Regions from separate parts of the Homo sapiens genome. Here region 2 is linked to region 1. Evidence: fine-mapped expression QTL. A gene starts in region 1. The other region holds a variant in brackets. All regions are shown on one strand. Distances are from middle to middle.

What was found. PIP is the estimated chance that this variant, and not a neighbour inherited with it, causes the effect.
Region 2: its variant is the best candidate, but not a certain one, in a credible set for the expression of MPZL3 in whole blood (INTERVAL, PIP 0.61).

What each region holds. Positions count from the first base shown.
Region 1 is chr11:118,249,902-118,254,300 of GRCh38, forward strand. It overlaps MPZL3 (myelin protein zero like 3), which reads right to left and starts at 2,464. Exons shown (of 6, transcript NM_198275.3): 1 at 2,321-2,464. The coding sequence starts at 2,393. MPZL2 (myelin protein zero like 2) reads right to left here. Exons shown (of 6, transcript NM_005797.4): 6 at 3,515-4,399. RefSeq lists enhancers at 1,784-2,345, 1,947-1,996, 2,346-2,906.
Region 2 is chr11:118,220,240-118,224,638 of GRCh38, forward strand. The region is part of intron 1 of JAML (junction adhesion molecule like); the gene reads right to left. Among named protein-coding and RNA genes, the nearest start is that of JAML, 2.6 kb to the right of the region's middle. The variant C/T (reference allele first, on the strand shown) is at 2,593.

The DNA.
Region 1 (4,399 bases):
AACACCAAACAAATGGATGAACCTTGAAAACATGCAAAGTGAAAAAAGCCAGTCACCAAAAGCACATATTGTGTAATTCCATTTACTTTATTTTTATTTATTTATTTATTTATTTATTGAGGCAGGATCTCATTCCATCGCTCAGGCTGAAGTGCAGTGGTGCAATCCCAGATCACTGCAACTCCGACCTCCCAGGTTCAAGTGATTCTTCTGCCTCAGCCTCTCAAGAATCTGGGATAACAGGGGCATGTCACCACACCTGGCTAATTTTTTTTTTTTTTTTTTTTTTTTTTTGTATTTTTTGGTAGAGATAGGGTTTTACCACGTTGGCCAGGCTGGTCTCAAACTTCTGACCTCAAATGATCCACCCACCTCGGCCTCCCAAAGTGCTAGGATTACAGATATTATTCTATTTATATGAAATGTCCAGAATAGGCAAATCAATAGATACAAAAAAATAGACTGGTGGTTGCCAGGGGCTAAGGGAAATGGAGAGTGAGGAGTGATTGTTAATGGGTATCAAGTTTCTCTTTGGGGTGATGAAAATGTTCTAAAATTGATAGTGGTAATTATTGCATAACTGTGAATATACTAAAAACCATTCAATTATGCCCTTTAAGACAGTAAATTGTATGGCATGTGAATAATATGATAAACCAGTTGTTTCTTTTTTGTTTGTTTTTGTTTTTGTTTTTTGAGACGGAGTTTCTCTCTTGTCGCCCAGGCTAGAGTGCAATGGCGAGATCTCAGCTCACTGCAACCTCTGCCTCCTGGGTTCAAGCGATTCTCCTGTCTCAGCCTCCCGAGTAGCTGGGATTACAGGCGCCCGCCACCACGCCTGGCTAATTTTTTTTGTATTTTTTAGTAGAGACGGAGTTTCACTATGTTGGTCAGCCTGGTCTCGAACTCCTGACCTCAGGTGATCCAGCTGCCTCGGTCTCCCAAAGTGCTGGGATTACAGGCAAGAACCACCACACCCTGCCACCAGTTATTTTTTAAAAGGCAAAAAATCTATTCCACAAGTACATAGAGATTGTAAAATCAACTTTAAATGTTTGATTGAATTATATGGTCTGCTGGACTTGACAGATGCTCTTCAAAGCAAAATGACATTAGATTTAAGAAAACACCATTTCCAGATTTTTTTTCTCAATAAGACAATATTTGAATATTTCTCGTGTGTGTGTGTGTGTGTGTGTGTGTGTGTGTGTGTGTGTGAAAGAGAGAGAGAGAGGACTGGGTTTATTAGGAGTGACAGTAGGCCAGCCTAAATATCATACTGCAAAGTAATTTAGCTTAAAAACTGGAGACTTATGATGACACAGGCAGCTGGGAGGGATCGGGGGTGTGCTGGCAACATGAATATTAGTCACCAGTTAAAAACTTTCCAGCCTTAACTGCTAAGATTTAGGACATCTGAAGTCTTTATATTAAACTATTTATATTTATATAATATTAAATATCTCTTTCAGAAATCCCCATTACCCTCAAGGAAATTTTATAAATTTAGCAATTCACTCTAATACTAGATATACTAATATTTTATTTCCCAGGAAGACACACATACACAAAATCCAGGAAATAATTGTACCTTAAGATGAAGGTAATTAGGCTGGATTGAAATTTATGCAATTTGAAAATTATATGAAAGCAAAACTCACCTAATTTTAAGATGTGAATGTCAGTGTGAATACCCTACTTCTGATATTACTTAATAAATTTTAACAGAATTTATATGCTCTTTCTTGTATTAAAAAAAGTTATGAAAATGCTAAAGCAGTTACTTTTTCATCGATATGCTTCTCTATAACGAATCACATCACATCCCTTCTGTGACTAGCAAATATTTCATTTTATAGACTACAATAATCACCTACAAAAAATAAAATTACCAACTGTCATGATTTTGTTTCCCAAAACTACTGGGGCAAACTACTGAATGCTAGAACTGTTTTCTTTCTAATCAGGGTATACAGCGCCCAAACGACAGCGGTCAACCACTGATAATAACACCACAAAATAACACCGGGTGCCCCCAAAGCCAGAGCTCTTTGTGGTTCCATCAAGTATGCTATCACCAAACTACAATGACAGGTCACGCAAGGTGAAAAAGCTCCCAAAGCTCAGGAAAGGACTGACAAAATACCAACTATCCTCAACGGGGTGGTGATGACATCGTCCCAACGTCCCGCTCCCTCCCTCCTTCCTTCCCAGAGCTATGCGGGGGCTTTCTGGAGACCCCCCTACCCGGAACCGGAAAAGCGACCATCTTCCCTAACCCCCCGGCCGGAAGTGGAGCGTAGCCAGCCGGAGCACTCACCCTGGAAGAACAGGACGCCCAGCAGAGGGAAGAGAGCGCAGCCACGGCTTCCAGCTGCTCCTCTCTGCTGCATCCCGGCAGCTCTTCAGATGCTTGCACACCTTGTTTACAGCTCCCGGTAACGACACAGGTAACACCGGAAGTGACGTCAGAGCAGGAGGCCGAGAGACAACTTAAATGGCGATCCGAAGTTACCATAGGAACCTGGCTTCTTTCCAGAACCACACCTGGTTTCACTGACCAGAGATTTATTAACTTTCAGGCGGGAGCTAAATGCTCTCTTTTGCTTGAAAATGAAGTAGGCTACGGACTTGGAATAATTACAATTTTGTTTTTATGGAATTCTGCAGAACTAAATAATTTTGATGCTCTGACTGCATGTCAGACATCGTTTTTACGTCTCGAGATTTAGTTGAAGGTTCTCAGAATACACTACTGTAAATTTAGAGTTCAGAAACACCTGGGAGATCATACAGTATAGATAAATATATATTAGGTGCTTGTAGTGATATGTGCCACAAGCCTCATTGGTTGGTGTCCTTTTTAGTGTAAGTATTGCAGCCTCCAAAATTGGGTGTTTATTAAATTACTTTTGGCGGTGGCAATGATGATCAAATCATTACAGCCTGTATTAGAGGAAAAGAGGAACTGGGATTTCTGTGTCTTTGGTTGGAAAAGTAAGAAAGTTATGTTATCACAGTACTTGAAGTGAGATGGCGTCACATACTTCTGAAAAAGAGATGGTACAATAAGTACACTGCTTTAATAATCAGTAAGCCTCTTCCCTGGAAATTGCCACATGTCAATGAAAGCAGGAGGAGAATAAAAGTATGCTTTCGCTTTGGGGAAGAATTAATAAGTTTCCATTTTTCAATTTCCATTCCTTTACTAGACTTGAAAGCCAGTAGTTTTCCCTATTAAAAGTGTAATGCAAAGTACTAAATAGAATCTTTGATACTTTTCTTTGAAAGAGCCCTCAAACTAAGTAGTGTTGTTATGCCCAATTCCCAGCTATCCAAAACAGTGTGAAAATTCTGTGGAAATCCGTATACTTCTGTTTACCCATTAGAAACTAACTGTATCCATTATTGACTTGCAGGTTGTCTCTACTAAGAAAACTTTTTGGTAAAGATTAAATATATATCCATCTGTTTTTCCTGCAATGTAGAACTTCTAGATATGTATATACACAAATTATATAACTGATAATTCTTTATTACTAAAGGTTTATTTACATAGTGTTTAAAGCATAATAAAAAATAAATTACAATACAAAAGTGCTCTTTAGGAAGGAGACACTAAACAACAGGCCCATATTACCCCTTGACTATTTAGCCAAGACATAAGCTACAAATTTTGCCGGAAAAACTGTCCATACATTTTTAACTACTTCTTCATTATTCTTATGGACCATCATCCAGGACATCTGTTTGAAGAAATATCCAGTTATAATATTTTCAAAGGTTAGAATTGTGAAGAAAAAATATAAAATGTGATTAAAGGATATATAGCCTTCAGATGTAATTTACAGTTTTAAAATTGCACTTTAAAACTTTGCTTTTTTAGACAGTATAAAAGGCAGAATGAGACAGATATGTAATGAATTTCAGAACTGAGGTTCATATGTAAATCATACAATTTTTTAAAAAATAGTATTGGAAAAATATCAAGGTCTATACATTTAAATACAGATAATCTGTTTGAAAATTCCAGTTTGTTAAAAGAAAAAACATCTGCAGTCCAGTCGATTAAAAACTGAAAATATCAATCTGTAAAGATTGATCTTGAGCCTAAACTTTTAGATGCTTTCTATCCTTTGAACAAATGCTTCTGTATCTTAAGCTTGTAACTTTTCTTTCAATAGCCCACTTATAAAGTTTGCTTTATCTACCAGTATGGGGGAAAAAAAGAATAAAGTTGGTTTTATTCCATTTAAAGTAGTTTTGGTATTTCTTTGCTCCATACCAAAGTCTTCCTCCCCCAAAATAAACAAGTGAATTAGAATTAAAAAAGAAAAAAAGTTAATAATTTCTTCTAGTTCTCAGAGTTTTATATAAAACTGTACAAAATTATCATCAT
Region 2 (4,399 bases), 30 kb before region 1:
CTCATACCTGAACCGATTATCCGGTGCAAGGCCCCAGTGCAGAGAAGTCTTTCTGATAGCTGGGATGCCCTTTAGAAAGTGCACCCAAGTCCATCAGTGGATGAGAGTGGAACGCTTTTCCTCAGCGAGAAGCCTCAAGAGAAAGCAGTTTGTGTCCCCAGCGGACATTAGCCCCCAGAGGTTGGCTCATCATTTTCCAGTCCCACCATGGGACAAATCCCATCTGTTCCTTCAGACTCACCTCTGCATTGCATCCTAAAACATTGAGACAAATTTAACCCTCAGACTCTCAAAAAGAAACATCTACTTTTCTTGTGTAATACAGCGTGGTCCCTATGCAAAGAATCCTCAACTTGGCCTCCTCGATCTTTTATAACCAAGAGCAGAATAAGGAGGCCAGGGCTAAGGAGAAAGAAAAATGCAGGGAAGAAAGGCAGGCTCAATTGTTGGCTGATTTAGAAGCCCTCAGCTCCCTCCAGGTTGCCCTAAGGACACTCCTCCAGGTAAGTGCCCTCAGTGCAGATGGCCAGGCCACTGGAAGGCAAACTGCCCCAATGGGATACATGGGAAAAAGCCCCGCACAGCTTGTACCCTCTGCCACAAGCTCAGCTGCTGAAAATGGGACTGTCCTGAGGGCTGAAAGACCCTGAGGACAGAATTCTAGCCCCTGATGGCCTTAAAATGAAGTGGGCTCTCTGCCCCCGCTGAATTCCAAATCACAGCAAAACAAAGCCAAGGGTGACTCTGGAGGTGGCAAGTAAAATTATCAATTTCCCCTTGAGTTCAAGAGCTCCCTGTCATAGAGATGCCTCCTCTACCCCTTTCTGGAAATACCTTTTGCTTATATGGTAAAAATCTGGAAAATCACTATCTGGAGTTTAACAGGCTTTTAGATTCAGTCACCATTGGAACTGAGTACACCATTAAAAGGAAAAGGCAAAATTAAAAGAAGCATGCGTAATAATTACATGGCTAGTCCTAGAAAGTTCTCTTGAGCAGTTAAAATCCTTTGCAAGCTTGAAATGCTCTAAACTCCTCCCGGAAAAAAACAACAGCAGTTATCTTGCACTATAGTTCACTGGTCCCCAATCTTTTTGGCACCGGGGACAATTTTTCCCCATGGAAAACAATTTTTTCATGGAAGACAATTTTTCCACAGACCAGGGAGGGTGGGTGATGATTTGGGGATGAAACTGTTCCACCTCAGATCACCAGGAATTAGATTCTCCTAAGAAGCATGAAACCTAGATCCCTTGCATGTGCAGTTCACCATAGGGTTCATGCTCCCGTGAGAATCTAATACCCTCGCTGATCTGAAAGGAGGCAGAGCTCAGGCAGTAATGCTTGCTTGTCTGCCCCCGACTTACCTCCTGCTGAGCGGTTCGGTTCCCAACAGGCCATGGACCAGTGCCAGTCTACTGCCCAGGGGTTGGGGACCCCTGCTGTAGCTCAACTGCTAAAGCTTTGCCCTCTCACAGTGGTGCCCTGGGTTCAATTCCTGGCTCCAAAAGTGAGTCTTTTGTGGTTTAATCATTTATTGATTCTTTTCCCCTCCATGGAGAGCTCCTAATTTCCTGTCTTGAAATTTTCTTTTCTCTGAGTTACCTTTGGGGCAATTCTAGATCTTGTAAATTGCTTACCATCTCTTTGGAGACACCTTGTGTGTCCCTGTTTAAGTTATCCCCTTACTTAAGGTTTATTAATTTCACATAGGAGGTTACCTTTAGGTAAAGATTCAAAAGCCAGAAATATTGGCCATTTGTCCTGGCTAAAATCTGGTAATAAAAGATTTTTATAGGATTTTTATTTTGAGAACTCCATAGTCAGAAATCAACTTAATTAAAGACGATATTTGGGCTGTATGTATACAGATATTGTTTTAAAAGCCCCTGCTGGCCAGGCACAGTGGCTTATGCCTATAATCCTAGCACTTTGAGAGGCCAAGGTGGACAGATCGCTTGAGCCCAGGAGTTTGAGACCAGCCTGAGCAACTTGGTGAAACACCATCTGAACAAAAAAAAAATACAAAAATTAGCTGGATGTAGTGGCAGGCACCTGTAGTCCTAGCTACTCAGGAGGCTGAAGTGGGAGGATCACTTGAGCCCAGGAGGCTGAGGCTGCAGCGAGTTGTGATCGCACCACTGCATTCCAACCTGGCGACAGAGCGAGACTCCATCTAAACAAACAAAAAGCCCCTGCTTTCCCTCTAAGAACTTCTCAGTCAATGGAATTTTGTCTTGATTTTCCATTTCTGTCTGTCTGTGTATTTATATGTGTTGTATGTATAGTATTTATATAAAAGAGCTCTAATTAATTGGCTTAAAGAAACTAAAATCAAACATTTTATCAGAAAAAATTGAAACTTTAATCTCTTTTAGGTCACGTGACTCTAATGATTTTTAAACATAAAGACAGTGTAAATAACATAAAAAATAAAGACAGTGTAAGTAAAGAATGTGTTTTGGTGGGAGGTTATAAGAAGGCGTGTGAATATGGTTTCTGTTAAAGAGAACGTAATTTTGTCTAGCTCAGAGGGTTTTAACTATTGGCCTCACCTAAAAGAGTAATGGGACAGCTGGGCATGGTGGCTCA[C/T]GCCTGTCATCCCAGAACTTTGGGAGGCTGAGGTGGGGAGATCACTTGAGGTTAGGAGTTCCAGACCAGCCTGGCCAACATGGCAAAACCCCGTCTCTACTAAAAATACAAAAATTAATCAGGTGTGGTGGTGAGCGCCTGTAATCCCAGCTACTTGGGAGGCTGAGGCAGGAGAATCACTTGAACTCGGGAGGCGGAGGTTGCAGAGAGTCGAGATTGTGCCACTGCATGCCAGCCTAGGTGACAGAGTGAGACTCTGTCTCAAAAAAAAAAAAAAAAAAAAAGAGTAATGTGACAAAACTGATGGTTTAAGCAAGTTGAAAAGGGTTTGTGAAGGGTTAATCTCATGAAAAGTTCTGTGGGTATAAGCAGGTTGGCTAAGATTTAAAGGGGATTACTTAGTTTTTCCATAGGTCGAACACTGAAATAAAAGCACACTGATGTAGGGCCAGAATCCGGGCCCATGTGTCTGAATAATGGTTTTCTAGAGAATTTATTTGTTTAACAGAAAATTGTAAAGAATTATGAGAGGTTTGTGGACGTTTTACCTTATGGTCAAACTATGATTGTATAGATTTGTTTATAAGGTTTTATTAAGAATTGGATCTAACATTAATAATATACTAATGCAAAGGTGAAATTTTGCTTTCTCTCATAAACAAGATTTTTGCATAATATTTTAAAATAATGAGATTTTTGTTTACCTTTTAATAAACAACAGAAAAAGGAGGAGAGAGGAAATAGATTCGGTTGGCATCATGCTGTCTTTATTGCGACCTGCTTGGAAAGTTGACTCTCCCCTCTATCAGCAAGTAAAGATTTTTGCCTTTTAGAAATTTTGGAGTTATCATTTTGGCTACCTAAATGACTTGTAGTGACTCTATACTAATCTTCTCTGAGCAACTCTCCTCCATATCCTGTTGGGTAATGAGAACAAGTGGCACCCCCTCCCTCCAAAAAATCCATACCCCTTTATATTACAGAAAAGAAATCTTCAGAAAAGAGACATGCTACAATGAGACTACCATACAAGATGTGAAAGTTACCCCCCAAATTACAATATCATGAGACAAAATAAGGGAGAGCTGCTGTCTCTCAGTGTTTGTCCCTAGTAAGGACAACTAACCACTGAGCAAACGGACAACTGCACAGCCTTCTTTTACTCACAGAGTGTTGTCCACCTGCAGAGCCAAGTCCTCTCAATCTATCTGCACACTGCTGTGCACTTCTAGGCTCTCAGATGTTTTTAGGTCTACAAGTCCATATAACCACTCTAAGCCATGCGTCTTAAAATATGCCCTCATTTTCCATTGTTAAGCCATTGAATACAGACTGGTAGGTCACGTGGCTTCTGTAACACAGTCTAGGTCACATCGGTTAATGCTCTACGCGAATGGGACCCTGGAGGTCCTTACTCCTGCTCTCTTCTCCAGAGTAGGTTATACCTAAACCATCCTGCATCAGCCTTTCCCAAGGTCAGGGCTGTGCTGAGGGTGTAACAAGCATGGACAGTAGCCTAGCTTTCTTGGGAGATTTAAGTCTCGGGCTTCTAAAGGTTAAATATTGGTTTGTCTATAATGGGGAGAAGAAAAACAGTGGTATAACTATGTAAAATGATGGATATATTAATCTGCTTCACCATAGTAAACTTTTTACTATCTACATGCATCCCACAACATCATGTTGTATACCTTAAATACACACAATAAAATTTGTTTAAAAATAAAATTAAAAACTGTCTTCTAAAAAGAAAAACAGTGAAGAAAGAGCTCTGCTGTGAGCTCAAGAACAGCCAGTCACAGCTCCA